2 linked regions of the Homo sapiens genome follow. The protein of the gene in region 1 purifies or fractionates together with the protein of each later gene. This does not show direct contact. Each region holds a gene or a part of one and is shown in the gene's direction. Other genes may lie near its edges.

Region 1 (7,926 bases):
TGCTTCTTAGAGCTCAGTGCTGAGCGGAGCAGAGAACTCACCTGAATGTCAGATCAGCCTGTGGACTGAGCTCCATTCATAGGATAAGCAGTAGCTGAGCTCTGAAGGATGAAAGCCCATCTCTGACGTCTGTTGCCCACTCCTCCCCATCCCCTGCCTCCTCCATTCATTCATTCAACACAGATTTACCGTGTCCTGTGACGCAGGCACTGTGTTAGACAACAGGAACCAGAAGATGGCCCCAACAGAGTCCTGGCCTCAAGAAGTTCACTTTCCTTGATAGGAAGGAGGGCATGGTGGCCCGTGCCTGTAGGACCAGCTATATAGGAGGCAGAGGCAGGAGGATCGCTTGAGCCCAGGAGTTAGGGGCTGCAGTGAGCTATGACCATACCACTGCACTATAAACTGGGCAACAGAGCAAGACTGTCTCAAACCTATATATATATATATATATGTGTGTGTGTGTGTGTGTGTGTGTGTGTCTGTGGTGTGTGTATATATATACACACACGCATATATATATATATATATATATATATATAACCTTGATAGGGAGGAGACAGACATATGTGACAACCTATGTCCAGAACCACCTAGCCTGGAACTGGGACTTTTTTTTTCTTTTTTTTTTTTTGTAGACAGAGTCTCACTTTGTAGCCCAGTCTGGAGTGCAGTGGCACAATCTCAGCTCACTGCAAATTCCAACTCCCAGGTTCAAGTGATTCTCGTGCCTCTGCCTCCCAAGAAGCTGGGATTACAGGGGCTTGCCACCACACTAGGCTAATTTTTGTATTTTTTTTTTAGTAGAGACGCAGTTTCACCATGTTGGCCAGGCTGGTCTCAATCTCCTGACCTTAAGTGATCTGCCCACCTTGGCCTCCTAAATTGCTGGGATTACCGACATGAGTCACTGCACCCGGTTGGAACTGTCACTTTCTACTTGGAACTGAGCTCCCTTTCCAACACCAAAATGTGTCTTTCCCACAGCTCATTCCTTTGGAATTTGAGTTCGCAAATTCTTTGCGCAAAACATCTAACTTCTATTTCTGTAACTGAACTTGATTTGAATTCCCATTGTGCTGGGTGTCAGAATCTTAATCATGTCAGGTAATTAAGCAACCTCTTCTCCCTTCTTACCATAGGCTAGGGGAGAGAGTCGAGGCCCCAGATGGGACTGGAGTATTCTCAGTCCGAATAGTGAACACAGAGTCATCCTCAATCCTCTCTACTCTCGTGGTCTTGAGGGGCCACTGCTACCTCCTCCTGGTCCTGACCTTGAGGCTTCTCAGCACTGGCTTTCTCTGAATTCCTTCTGTGCACAAGTAAGTCATTCAGCTTCTTCCTGAACAATAAGGATTTCTCATCCAGATACCCCTGTTCCGTGGTTACTCTACTGTTACCAAACCATGCTTGACCCAGAGGGGAACTCTGCAAAGCTCACCACCTCCCCCAGCTTCCCCAGGGAGAAAGACACACACACCCTCTCCTCTGAGACCTCCAAACCTATGTGGGTATCTGTCGTCACTACCACTCCTGCCTGGTACCCGTGCACACCCAAGGACTGTGTTTGGAGAGGCAGATGCATTGAGGTCTAAGCGTTCTTGCATCCTTAACTTTGAAACCATAAAAGCATGTTCTTTTCTTTGATCTCTGGATGTTTCATTTTGTTTTTTGTCATCTCCCTCTTTCGATGCCTCCTGCAATGAATTGTATGTGGGAGGAAGGGAGAGGCAAACATGTACAAGGACACAGAGGTATCCTGGGAGAAACTGTGACTCATACTATAAAATATTAATCTCACTCACTTATATAGCACCTTGTACTTTATATTAATTAATTAATTAATTTATTTATTTATTTATTTATTTACTGAGGCAGAGTCTCACTCTGTCACCCAGGCTGGAGTGCAGTGGCACAATCTCAGCTCACTGCAACCTCCGCCTCCCGGGTTCAAGCAATTCTCCTGCCTCGGTCTCCCGAGTAGCTGGGACTATAGGCACCTGCCACCACGCATGGCTATTTATTTTTATTTTTTAGTAGAGACAGTGTTTCACCATGTTGGCCCTCAAACTCCTGACCTCAAGTGATCTGCCATCCTCGGCCTCCCAAAGTGCTGGGATTACAGGCATGAGCCACCACACCCAGCCAAAACATGTATTTCTCATGGAATAACTGCATGCACTAGAGCAAGCTAATTGGGAAAGTCAACAGTTTATGAAATAATGATGAGTTGCTGGCACCTGATGCACATTCATAGTCCCATTTAACTCTTCAAGTGAAACTCTCACTTGGCAGGAATTTACTATTAGCCATTTTCCAAATAAGAGATACAGACGAGAGAGTCTCTATCTCTTCTTTGGTGCAAGGAGATTGGTGCAGTCGGTGAATGGCAAAAGTGGATATGTACCCAGATCTGTCTCCAGTCCAAATTCCAACTCATCACTTCCCTTATCTGCCAGGCTGGATAAGGGAAGTGGTTCTGCTTCCAAACTTAATATGTGACAGATAAGGCAATCTAAACCAAAGTCTTCTTGAGTTTGGTCAAACCATATGCTGCCAAGGCTTGAATCCACATAACTGTAACAAGCCATCCCAACTATGCCACAACCCACACAACTCAAAGGCAAGGGAATCCCAGGCGACAAGGTCCAGGAACAGCCACTCTGGGGAGTCTGCCACCTCTGATATTGCTCCCGTGGCACACATGGTGCCCCATCTGCCTCCAGACCTGCGCTGAAGGAATGGGGGGAAGGGGCAAGCTTTGTAGGTGTGGGTGATCCAGTGGTCACTTGAGGTCTCTCAAACAAGGACTCTGTAGATGATGTTAATGGGCCAAACGGAATGCACATCTGCCCCTAAGTGTGTTTCTTTTCTTTCTTTTCTTCTTTCTTTCTTTTTTTTTTTTTTTTTTTTTTGTTGAGACAGGGTCTTGCTCTGTTGCCCAGGCTGGAGTGTAGTGGTGCAATCTTGGCTCACTGCAACCTCCACCTACTGGGTTCAAGTAATTCTTCTGCCTCAAGCCTCCCAAGTAGCTGGAACCACAGGCATGTGCCACCACTCCTGGCTAGTTTTTTTATTTTAGTAGAGACGGGGCTGGTCTGGAACTCTGGGCCTCAAGTGATCCACCCACCTTGGCCTCCCAAAGTGCTGGGATTACAGCTATGAGCCACCGTGGCCAGCCTTGTTTATTTCTAAATGAGGCTTCCTTTGTGTCTCTACATTTCCTTCTACAAAAAAAACTGCCATGGCACAGGGGCTTATGCCTACAATCCCAGCACTTGGAGAGCCCAAGGCCAGTGGATCACTTGAGCCCAGGAGTTCGAGACCAGCCTGGGTTAACATAGTGAGACCCCAGCTCTACGAAAAATTTAAAAATTAGCCAGCCATGGTGGCATGCACCTGTGGTCCCAGCTATTCGGGAGGCTGAGGTGGGAGGATCACTTGAGCCCCGGAGTTCCAGGCTGCAGTGAGGTCTGATCTGGCCACTGCACTCCAGCCTGGGCAACAGAGCAAAGTGCTGTCTTAGAATAAAATACTTTTTAAATAAACTAAAAACAAAACAATGGGCCTGGTGTGGGTGGCTCACATCTGTAATCCCAGCACTTTCGGAGGGCAGGTGAGGCAGAATAGGGAATGAGGGTAACCAAGGGTTAAGGCATAAACAAAAGAACAGCAGGTGCAGCCAGTTCTAGGCAAGATTAGGCAGCATAGAGGCCACGTGTTCATTCCCTCAATCAGAGGCTGATTGACGGACGACAGGGGGTTGGCCGGGGGGGAGGGTGACAGCTTCTGATTGACGGGGGGGCGGGTGCGCGTCTCCACTTCAGCCTCTGATTGGTCACAGGCCAATCCTTCAGAGGGTGTAACCAATCGGAGACCTCTAACGGGCACCTAGGGGCGTTACCTAATTCTTCCAGCTTAATGAAAATCCTAATGGGGGCTCTTGAGCTGTTTGCTCTGTCTTGCTCCTGCTCTGTGAGTTGTACTTTCGCTTCAATAAATCTGTCTATTCCTTACTCCGGTTTTTTCTTTTGTTTCTTTTCGTTGCTTTGTTCTTTTGTTACTTTGTGCATTGCATTTTGTTCAGTTCTGTGTTCAACAAGCCAAGAACCTGGGCAATCCACGGTCAAGACCTTCCATCCAGTAGCAGAGGCAGGAGGATCCCTTGATGCCAAGAGTTAGAGAGCAGCCGGGGCAACAAAGTGAGACCCTGTCTCTACTATCTATCTATCTATTTTTTAATTATCTGGGCATGGTAGTGCATGCCTGTGGTCTCAGCTACTCCTCAGGCTGAGGTGGGAAGATCCCTTGAGCCCAGGAGTTGAGGCTGCAGTGAGCTATGATGGCACCACTGCACTCCAACCTGGGTGACAAAGCGAGATCTTGTCTCTAAATTAAATTTAAAACAATACCACCAAAACAACAACAGGCTGGGCGGTGGTGTCTCACGCCTGTAATCGGAGCACTTTGGGAGGCCGAAGTGGGAGACCATTTGAGGCCAGGAGTTCGAGAGCAGCCTGGGCAACACAGACCCCACCTCTACAAAAAAATAAAACTGGCCTTGGTGGCGCGCGCCTGTAATCCTAGCTACTTGGGAGGCTGAGGCAGGGGGATTGCTTGAGTGTCGGACGTTGAGGCTGCAGTGAGCTGAGATCGCGCCACTACACTCCAGCCTGGATGACAAACTGAGACCCTATCAGAAAAAACAACAACAACAAAAAAACAGTGCCCGCTCGGTTTTTCCTGAAACGCGCAGCCCTCGCCTGTAGCCAGGAGAAAACTCCGCGAGCCAGCAAAACACAAACTCGGCCAGGAAACAGACAACAAGGCCACCCGGGGGTGCCTGAAGAGGACGCTGCGAGGCGGATTCTTTTTCCGGGCCTGCGGCGAGTGCTTCCGGGGCGGTGGCGACGGAGGCGGAAGTGCGGTGTTTTAGCCGGTGGCTGCTGTCTCTGGGCGGGCCGTGGGAGGCTCCCGAGGTGGGGGCCGGGGCGGGATGGCTGCAGCGGCGGCCGGGGCCGGGAGCGGGCCCTGGGCGGCCCAGGAGAAGCAGTTCCCGCCGGCGCTGCTGAGTTTCTTCATCTACAACCCGCGCTTCGGGCCGCGCGAAGGACAGGTATGCGGAGGGGGCGGCGCGCGGGCGGGCGGCGCCGGTGTTCCCCGGGAAGGTGGCCCTGTGGTTCTGCCCACCTCGAGGGGCACTGACCTAGCCTGCATTGTGCCAGGTGCGAGTCCGGGCAGGGGGCTGCGGCGGGGACCTGACAGCAGGCAGGGACCGCTTCAGGTCCTAGGTCGATGGAATAAAGCCCCGTCGGGTCTATATCACTCCACACCCCAGGTTGAGGCTCTTTGCGCTTTGCTTTGCGTCAGTTCTGGGAAATTAAAATTGAACTTGGCTTTGTTAAGTGGGTAGTCCCCAACTAGAAGCGTGGAACCAGGGTGGCAGACGCTAGCCTTCAAATGATGCAAGCCTGGAGGTCCCTGTAATAGTTTTCGCCCAAATGAGGAAATAAATTAATTTCGGGAGGGGTGTGTGTGTGTGTGTGTGTGTGGTTTTTCTGAGGTGGGGACGGCGACTTTCTCAAAGGATGTCCGGAGCTGTGTTTTGTTTCCAGCAAGTCAGACTTCTGTTAAAGACTGTCCAGGCTGGGCGCTGTGACTCACGCCTGTAATCCCAGCACTTTAGGAGGCCGAGATGGGAGGATTGCTTGAGGCCAGGGGTTCCAGACCAGCCTGGGCAACATAGCAAGACCCCCAACTCTACAAAAAAAAAAAAAAAATTGAAAAGTGAGCCGGGCGTGGTGGCACGCACCTGTATTTCCAGTTACTCAGGAGGCTGAGGCCAGAGGATCGCTTGAGCCCAAGTGATTGAGGCTGCAGGTGAGCTGTAATAGCGCCACTGCACTACAGCCTGGGCAGCACAGACCCCATCTCCAGAAAAAGAAAAAAAAAACAACTTGTCAGTTCAAATGGCTGGGAACTGACTGGATTTAATTTTCAGGGAGCTATGTGTCTGCAGATGGGCACACCTTTACTTCTTACAAGCATTGGTGTATTACAAATTAGCACTAGGAAAGAAACCTGGAGACTTGAGTTTTCATAAAAATTACCTGGTGCTACTTCAGATGTGACTTCTTGACTATCGAAATTGCCTTTCTGACTGGTGGGCAGTATTTGCACAATGATGAGATCATTCCTGTTCTTCTTCTTATTTTAAATAATAGAGACGTCTCACTGTGTTGCCCATGCTGGTCTTGAACTCCTGAGCTCAAGTGATCCTCCCGCCTCAGCCTCTGAAAATACTAGGATTACAATTCCTGTTTTTCTAAAACCGGTTTTTGTTTTATTTTGTCATTAGCATGTGTGACACAAGAGGTCGACATTGAACTTAGCGTTTTCAATAGCTAAGATGAAATGTTTCTATTCATGTTGTGCTTCTGTTTCCTCATGTTTCAGGAGGAAAATAAGATTTTATTTTATCATCCAAATGAGGTAGAAAAGAATGAGAAGATTAGAAATGTCGGATTGTGTGAAGCTATTGTACAGTTTACAAGGTAATACCTCTAAGTGTGCCTTTAGCGTTCAGTGAATTCTTAAAACTGCTGCTGGAGAATTGTCCCAAACATATTTTTTTAACCTTTGTAGGACATTTAGCCCATCAAAACCTGCAAAATCTTTACATACACAGAAGAACAGACAGTTCTTCAATGAACCAGAAGAAAATTTCTGGATGGTCATGGTATTTACACACACAGTGTATCTTTCTGAAATTGTATGGTGAAGTTATGGGTGATCTTTACTGTTCAGAATTTAGGAAAGTTCTCTGGCTGTTGCATCCAAGTAAAATTAAAATAAAATTGGTTGCAATTTTAAAATCAAGTTCTTCCTATTTGCTTTATTCATTCTTGGGGCTGTTTTAAGAAGTTGTGTTTCTGGTGCTGTAGCATGTTCAAAGTTTTTAAATTAAGGCAAAATAAACATGGTCTAATGAATTCATTGTATAATTTCAGTTTATCAAACTTTGTAGGTTGTTCGGAATCCTATAATTGAAAAACAGAGTAAAGATGGAAAACCAGTTATTGAATATCAAGAGGAGGAGTTGTTGGTAATGTGTCATTGTTTGTTTATTTATTTATTTTTTTAAATGTATTGCTGAGTATGTTGAATGCCTTACTTGGTCGGATTTAAACTAGGAGGCTTTTGCAGAAGTTTCTCGGGGTATATAGCAAAGGTTTATGTTTATCATTTACATGAGCACAATCTTTTTAAAATGTATATGCACCCAATCTCACTAATACCTTCTACTCTTCATCTATATTGAAAGCCCTCCTAAAGTAAGGCTTACTGATTGACAAATTAGAGTTTAAACACTTCTGGCTGGGAACAGTGGCTCACACCTGTAATCCTAGTACTTTGGGAGGTCAAGGCAGGCAGATTACTTGAGGTCAGGGGTTCGAGACCAGCCTGGCCAATATGGCGGAACCCTGTCTCTACTAAAACTACAAAAACTGGCCAGGGATGGTGGCGCACACCTGTCATCCCGGCTTCTCAGGAGGCTGAGGCAGGAGAATCGCTTGAACCGGGGACGCAAATGTTGCAGTGAGCCAGGATTGTACCACTGCGCTCCAGCCTGGACAACAGAGCGAGACTCCATCTCAAAAAAAAAAAAAAAAAAAAAGAACGCAAACACTTTTTTTCAGCACGCAACTATTGTGGGATGAAGTTTATAAACATTATACTGTTTGGCCAAGAGTCAGTGTACCTTTGCCATCTATCCAGTAGACATTGTTTTTCCCTTGAACTGAGCTGTGTGCTGTGTTTTCGCGTCTGCAGGACAAGGTTTATAGCTCGGTGCTGCGGCAGTGCTACAGCATGTACAAGGTAAGCGTGGCGTTCTTTCTCAACTCAGAGTCCAACCACTTACCC
Region 2 (7,000 bases), on another chromosome or scaffold:
GGACCAAGCCCCCATTTCTTCAGTGTGGCCGGAAGTTCCCTCCAGGGCATCCTGATCCAAAGGTGGAAGCTGGCAGTAGATGCCCAAGGGCTCCCTCGCAGGGCTTGTCCCTTGGGCATCCCTAGAGGGACAGGCCCAGGTCAGACCCCATTTTCCAGGTCCAGTGGCAGGTATGGAAAGAGCCTAGGCAGTGACTTGTGCACTGGCTACAGTTCCAGGCCTTCTCGAAGGCTGGGCAGTGTTTCCTCATTCCAGGAAGCCAGCGGAGCCTCTGCGAGCTGGCTGGGCACAGCAGCCCCTAGGTCAGCAGGCTCATGCTTAGGGTGGTGGCCACCCAGGAAGGTTCTGGATGAGGGTCTTTGCCTTAGGGACCTGGCCCCCACTGTCCACCATCAAGTTGAAAGTGACACTACCTCCCTAGTCTTGTGATCAGCTCCACGCACTTCGCCCTGGAAGTCCCATGCCAGGCGTGAACTGACCTAAGTCCCTCCAGTCACAAAGGCACTTCCCAAATTTGGTTGTGTGGCTGCTGCTATTTTGTTTATTTGTTTGATAGCAGCCACTGAAAACTTGGAGGAAGGTGAAGCCAGCCTCATTATCAAGTTTGAATGAAAGCAGCCTCAGAGCAAATTCTGCCAGACGTACACATTTTTGGACAAATATTTACCTGAAACAAGTCCAGCGGAGTCCATACAGCCTGTCCTGTGGGCTCGGTGAAGCCCAGCAATCTGCTCTCTGCTGCCCTGACCACACCTCCCTGGAGCTCTCATGGATTCTTTTACCTGCTCTTTCCTGAGTCAAGAGTGTCTCTGAATTCATTTAGCCAACCCACACATCTTGAATACCTCTGTCTTTACCAATGAGAACGCATTTCTAATATTTACTTTGCTAATCATCAAATGCCCAATGCTGACCAGAGATAAAGACGCTGAAGTGCCTGTCCCTGCTGCCTCTGGAGCAGATGCTTTCTGCTTCGAGGCAGTGGCTGCGAGTGGGGTAGGGGTGGGCGTTGCTGATTTGAATACATCTAGGTTGTAGCTGGCATAATGAAACCACACAGAACAGCCCACCATCTCTGCAAAGGAGTTTAGGATCCAAATGCACCACCCTACCAAGGAAGCAGAAGGTGAAGGCCGTGCCCTCAGGGAGCGTGCAGTCTGGCGAGGTTGCTGATGCAGTAGAGTCCTGAGCTCACAGTAAAATGCTGTTCTGCACGCTTCAGTTAACTTTCGCAGTGCAGGAGCCATTTCCCAATTCGATGGACCAAGGAGAGTGACAGCCAAGCACAGTCAAGAGCAGGAGGTGACAGTCGTATTAGAGGTGTAACTAAAAATTCACGTAAACTTGATCTCATTTGGTCCTTCCAAGACTGTGAGGTACGATCCATTACAATCCTGTTTCATGGATGTGGAACCTAGGCCTAGGAGGGTTGAATCTGTTGATCAAGGTCATAGAACTAGTAAGTGGCAGGCTGGCTGTCAACCAACCCACGTCCCCCGACACCCGGCTCTGCCCTGTTCTAACTTGCTCCATCCCTTTCTCCTGCTCCTGATTCCTTTCCTCTGCGAGGTGTGAACCCGGGAGGCTTCAGCAGCCAAGTACCTCCAGCGCAAGCTGACACGGCAGGGAAGCAAAGTCACACATCCCATTTTCTGCCCTGCCTGCGGGCACTCAGGCCATATGTCCCTGCCAAACCCCAGTGCAGGCACAGCGCTGCACCTGCAGCCACTTACAGGCTGCACTGGGCAGTCCAAGCCAGGCTGAGGCCACACTGGGACCCCACTGCGTCCAAACACCAGGAAACCCTAAGGACCCTTCTAGCCCCTGAGAGGTCAGGACCCCCAGCCCGAACGTGGAGGTGCCCAGTTGGCATAAGCACAGGGAACACCGTGAAAGGCCTTACGAAGCCTTTTAGAAACTCTGGGCTTTGGAACTTGTGCTGCAGAGTAAAATAGAAATCAGATCATCTGGACAAATCCCCCCTTGAGCTGGCGTTTGTTGATTCTGCCTATTTTCAACTTGGAGCCAATTATCCTGTGGATTCAAATAGTCCTAGATCTGCCTTGTTTGGAGGCTGAGGCCAATGCCAGCTGGTTAGGAGCCACTCTGGTGGGCTGAAGCCACAGGGGAGGGCACACATCCCCCGTGTCCTTAGCTGTGCCCTGGTGTCTGAGTTTCAGCCAGCTGGGAAGTGTTTCCTGTTTGTATAGCCAGGGTACCGGCCTGCGCTGCATTCTGCTTTCATCTCTGCAGATTGCTTTAAAGGCCACTCTGTGTCTACTTTCTGCCCTCTAATCCCCACTGCCACCATGGCCTTTGGCCAGAAAAGCCCTGGGTCTCATGTGGCGGTTGGCGGGGCGGCAGCAGGCTGCCTTAGCCCGTCTGGGCATCCCTGCCTTGTCGAGCGTTTCCCGGGAGGAAAACCACATCCTTCTCTTTTTTTCCCATGGCTACTTTCCCCCTCCCCATCTCCTCCAAACTGTCAGATTCTCAGGCACCTCTTCCTGCCTGCCAGGGCCGCCCTTTCCCAGAGCCCCGCAGCCTTGGAAGGGACACACCAGCGACTGGGCGTCCCAAGAGCCCCTCTCCCTGCAGTGGCCCTGGGCTTTCTCCCCGCCTTGCAGGGAGCCCATAAATTAGATCTGTGGCTCCCAGGAGCCAGGGCCTCTTTCTGACCAACAGGGAAGCAGTATTTCTTGGCAATTTTCTCAGCAGCCTCTTTCACCGGGCTAAATGAAAAGGAAGGTTTCCGCGCTCCCAGCCTTCCTGCAGGAGGACTGTGCGTCAGCTTGAAGCAGCCTGAGCCCATCAATTATTCAGCATGGACCCAGCACTTTGAATTTGCAAAGGTCTTAAGTATTTTTATAGATTCTTTTCTCATAATGTCCCAGCGAGACAAGCAAGGTTTCCCTGTTTCCTAGACAATAGATGCAGGGTTCAACTCGGAGTCAGAAGACTTGGGTGCAAGCGCAGCCAGCGCCACTCATGGAGCTGTGGGACCTGGGGCAGTTCTTTCGATGGCTCTGGTGTGCAGTTCTCTGTGGTATAATTCTTAGGAAGGCCTCCCTAGCCCAGGTCATTGTGTGTGTGGGGAAAAAAATTTGCAAATGCAGTGTGATTAAAAAATGCATGTGGTTGCTCTTGTTGCACCAGGTGTGGAAACGGAAGCTTCTATCCTGAGCTGAAGTGCAACCATTAGCATAGGACACTGCAAACCGGGCTCTGCTGGGAGACAGTCCCCAGGGAAACGTGGGCGAGTCGGCGCCTCTACTCCCTGGCCCCGTGGGGGTGGCTCCATGACATGGTGGTCCCACTACCTGCTGCTGTGGGCTGACTCTGCATGTGTCAGGGTGGAAGAGGGCACGGAGGTCATCACACCCAAACCAATGGCTTAGGGTGGGATGGGACCCCAGTAGCTGACTCCCAGGTCGGGAACTCTTTTCTCTTCCACACCAGGCTGGCTCTGTCCAAAATGTTTCTCCCGCTCCCATCGGCAATGCTGGGACCCCAGGCAGGAGGCACCGAGGGCTGCCTAAAGCCGGAGTGTTAGGGCAATCTACGGGTGCAGCCCACTAGGGCGCCTGCCCCTCCCAGAGCCCTGTAGTGGGTTTCATGCCATGTACCCATCCTCTCACACTGGTGGCCCCAGCATCACAGCTGTCCCTGGGACTGGCCCAGGAGCCACCTCCATCAACCAAAACAAGCAGACAAATGAAATGAGTCCCTGGCCTGGTGCGGTGGCTCACGCCTGTAATCGCAGCACTTTGGGAGGCCGAGGCAGGCAGATCACCTGATGTCAGGAGTTCAAGACCAGCCTGGCCAATATGGTGAAACCCCGTCTCTACTAAAAATACAAAAATTAGCCAGGTGTGGTGGTGGGTGTGGTGGTGGGTGCCTGTAATCCCAGCTACTCAGGAGGCTGAGGCAGGAGAATCACTTGAACCTTGGGAAGCAGAGTTTGCAGTAAGCCGAGGTCGTGCCGCTGCATTCCAGCCTGGGTGAGAAGAGCAAAACTCTGTCTCAAAAAAAGAAAAGAAATGAAATGAATCCCTGTTCCAGTTGAATTCCAAAGAGTCGTGTGACTTGTCCAGCGTCACAGGTTGTTAATGGCAGAACTTCCCTTAGGCTGAGGTCCCCTCACTGCCCAGCCCTGCCCAAGGACTAAGACCCCAGCCCCGGAAAGAGGCCCTCCTGCCACAGCAGCTGTACTCACAGCACCCACGTGCTTGGCACTGCAGACCGAGGCGCTCGGTCTCTTCTTCCTCTTCTGCCCAGAACAATTTTACAGAAAAACAAAGCATTGCCTTGGGAATATTTCAGTGTTATTTGCCCCTGAGGTTTCTAGGAACACTGGACTTGTAAGTACTATAAAGCTCACATGCCTGTTACTTCTGTGCAAATGGAGCCACCTGAAAGATGGTCACAATGGTGGAGTTGGGGAGACTTGAGCTGGAATGGTGGTTCCTTCCCTGACCTGCTTGTGAACTGTGGTTTCCTTGCCTGCAGTAGAGATAATACGAGACACTAGATAATACCAGTCATGCCTCAGGGTCATTTCAAGGGCTAAACTAGATATTGCACAGTGCCTGGCACAATAAAAAAGGTCTCCTCTTTTCCTCCTCCTTCTAACAATTTTCATTTATTTCTGTATAAATGAGAAATAGAGAAATGGGTGATAGAGAGAAAAGTAGTCATTCATGCGTTTATTTTATTATCAGAAAGTATGTGTTGAAGTTGTACTGGTTATACCCAGCAGGTGGCCATGAGCAGCAGGGGGAAGAACTGGGGGCGAATTCGCCCTCCTGAAGCCCAGGCTAGTGTGGGCAGTGCCGTTCCAGCCTCTCTTGATGGCAAGAGAATCTTCTGGTGCATTTCACTGGGAAGTTCAGCTCTTTAGGTTCTGCTGGGCCTAAGGGCTCAGAAGATGTCAGGATGCTCTCTCTTTCTCTCTCTTTCTGTTTTTTTTTTCCCTTAGTTCGCCTTACCTCAGGCTTATTCCCTTTTTACTACAGACGGGCTTTCTCCAGACTCTGGAAACTCCAAGCTTATATCCTCCCAGCTGAGCTGCTCCTGATGAAAATACCCTATTTCTCCAAGTGTCTGTGTTTAAATCCCATGAAAATATTCTGATTGGTCTTTTGTGGCCCATTGCACATCCCCAGGCCCAGTCACTATTGCCAGAGTAAGGGCTAAAATGAACGTCTCTTTCTAGGTGTCGTGAGTGTTCCTGGGGCAGGGGTGATGGGCAGGTGCTGTGACTCATGGTCCCTTCAGAACCACCTGAAATTAGACAGGAGTGATGCCCACAGAAGGGATGCTGGAAAAAGATAGATCTGTTCACCCGAGAGGCACATCAGAAATGTGACTCAGTAAAACCATCCAGCAGGTGCACTGCTGCACTGAGAGTGGGCAGGAAAGTGCTCAGATCCAAGTGTGAAGGGAGGAAGCCATCAGCTCCATTCGGAAGAGCACAAAAGACTGTCGAGTGAGGTGCTGTTTGATCCAGGCTTGAAGACTGAGTCAAATTCAAACATAAGGCTATCGCGGAAGGATGAGACATAAAGTTGAGACCAGCATCCCAAACCACCCCATCTCAACTCAAGAAAGATGACTCAGCCACCAGAAGCATTCTGACTTTGAAAGTCTTACCCATGAAGCTGTGGGAGGTCTGCTGGGGAGATGTCATCTGGAGCTGTGAACGACTCTGGCTGGACTTTGTTCGCTGACTTCACCGCATCAGCGTCATCAGCACACACTGAACATCTGCTGTTTACAGGGCCCTGTGCTCGGGACACAAAAGGTGCAGCAGTGTCCTGCCCCTCAAGGAGCTGATGTCTGGTCAGGAAGACAGGACCACAGACTCCCACAGTTCAAGGTCATGCGGGCCAGTGTGCAGTCAGCATGAGGAAAGCAAGTGACTGGAGAATTCAGAGAAAGGTGGCCTGGAAGGTGGGGAGTGTGAGAGGGCTTCAGGGAGGAGGCGAGCCCTCGGATGAGCTTTCAGGCAGTGCAGGGCCTAGCTCGCCAGTGAGGGCCAAAGACAAGGACAAAGGGCCAGATGGACTGCCCAGAAAGTCCTCTTCATTCATTCATGTACCCACTCTCTTACTCAGCAAGTTTCCTGAGCACCCGCTGTGTGCCGGGCACTGCTCTGAGTGCCGGGGTCACAGTCAGGAACAGAATTCGGAAGCCCCTGCCTGCTAGGAGCTGGCATCCTCAAGGGTGGGACACACAGACACCAACAAACATCACGGAGTAAGTGATGAGCTCCGGAAGCACCAGGAAGGCGAGCGCTGGGCTCCATCCTGTGGCCCAGGCTGGGGTTTGCGTGGAGATGAGGTTCAAGCAGAACCAGGCATGAAGCAGCCAGCATATGACATTGTGGCACAGCATCAATGTCCTTCAGAAGAGACTGCCGAGTTCTCACAAGGGTGTGCAGCAGGGAGGGGAAACCCCGGCAGCAAACAGGAGGCTTCCAGGAAGGGGGAAGGCTAGTGCTGTCCTGGCTGGACATGTGCCAGAGGGAATGCTTACCCGGCAGGGTAGACCACAGGGGTGCTTGGAGAAAACCCCAGGAGCGCTGTCCTGTGGAGCCCTGATCCCACCCACACCCCTAACCCAGCCCCGCCCACTTCCCCAACCCAGCCCCGCCCATTTCCCCAACCCAGCCCCGCCCACTTCCCCAACCCAGCCCCACCCACTTCCTTAACCCAGCCCCGCCCATACCCCTAACCCAGCCCCGCCCACTTCCCTAACCCAGCCCCACCTACATCCCTAACCCAGCCCCGCCCACTTCCCTAACCCAGCCCCGCTCATACCCCTAATCCAGCCCCACCCACTTCCCGAACCCAATCCCCCCATTTCCCTAACCCAGGGCCCAACTCACTTCCCTAACTCAGCCCTGCCCACTTCCCTAACCCAGCCCCACCCACGTCCCTAACCCAGCCCCACTCACTTCCCTTAGCCAGCCGCACTCCCCTAATCCAGCACCACCCACGTC

Evidence for each region. Proteins that work in one complex are often made in the same cells at the same time.
Region 2: the proteins of CCZ1B (region 1) and FAM167A purify together in Homo sapiens (co-immunoprecipitation; 2 studies listed by IntAct). This does not show direct contact.

Annotation. Positions count from the first base shown.
Region 1 is NC_000007.14:6,823,268-6,831,193, reverse strand, and holds the start of CCZ1B (vacuolar fusion protein CCZ1 homolog B), read left to right. Parts: upstream 1-4,918; 5' UTR 4,919-4,996; coding exon 4,997-5,116; intron 5,117-6,456; coding exon 6,457-6,554; intron 6,555-6,645; coding exon 6,646-6,739; intron 6,740-7,027; coding exon 7,028-7,105; intron 7,106-7,833; coding exon 7,834-7,881; intron 7,882-7,926.
Region 2 is NC_000008.11:11,456,754-11,463,753, reverse strand, and holds part of FAM167A (protein FAM167A), read left to right. Parts: intron 1-7,000.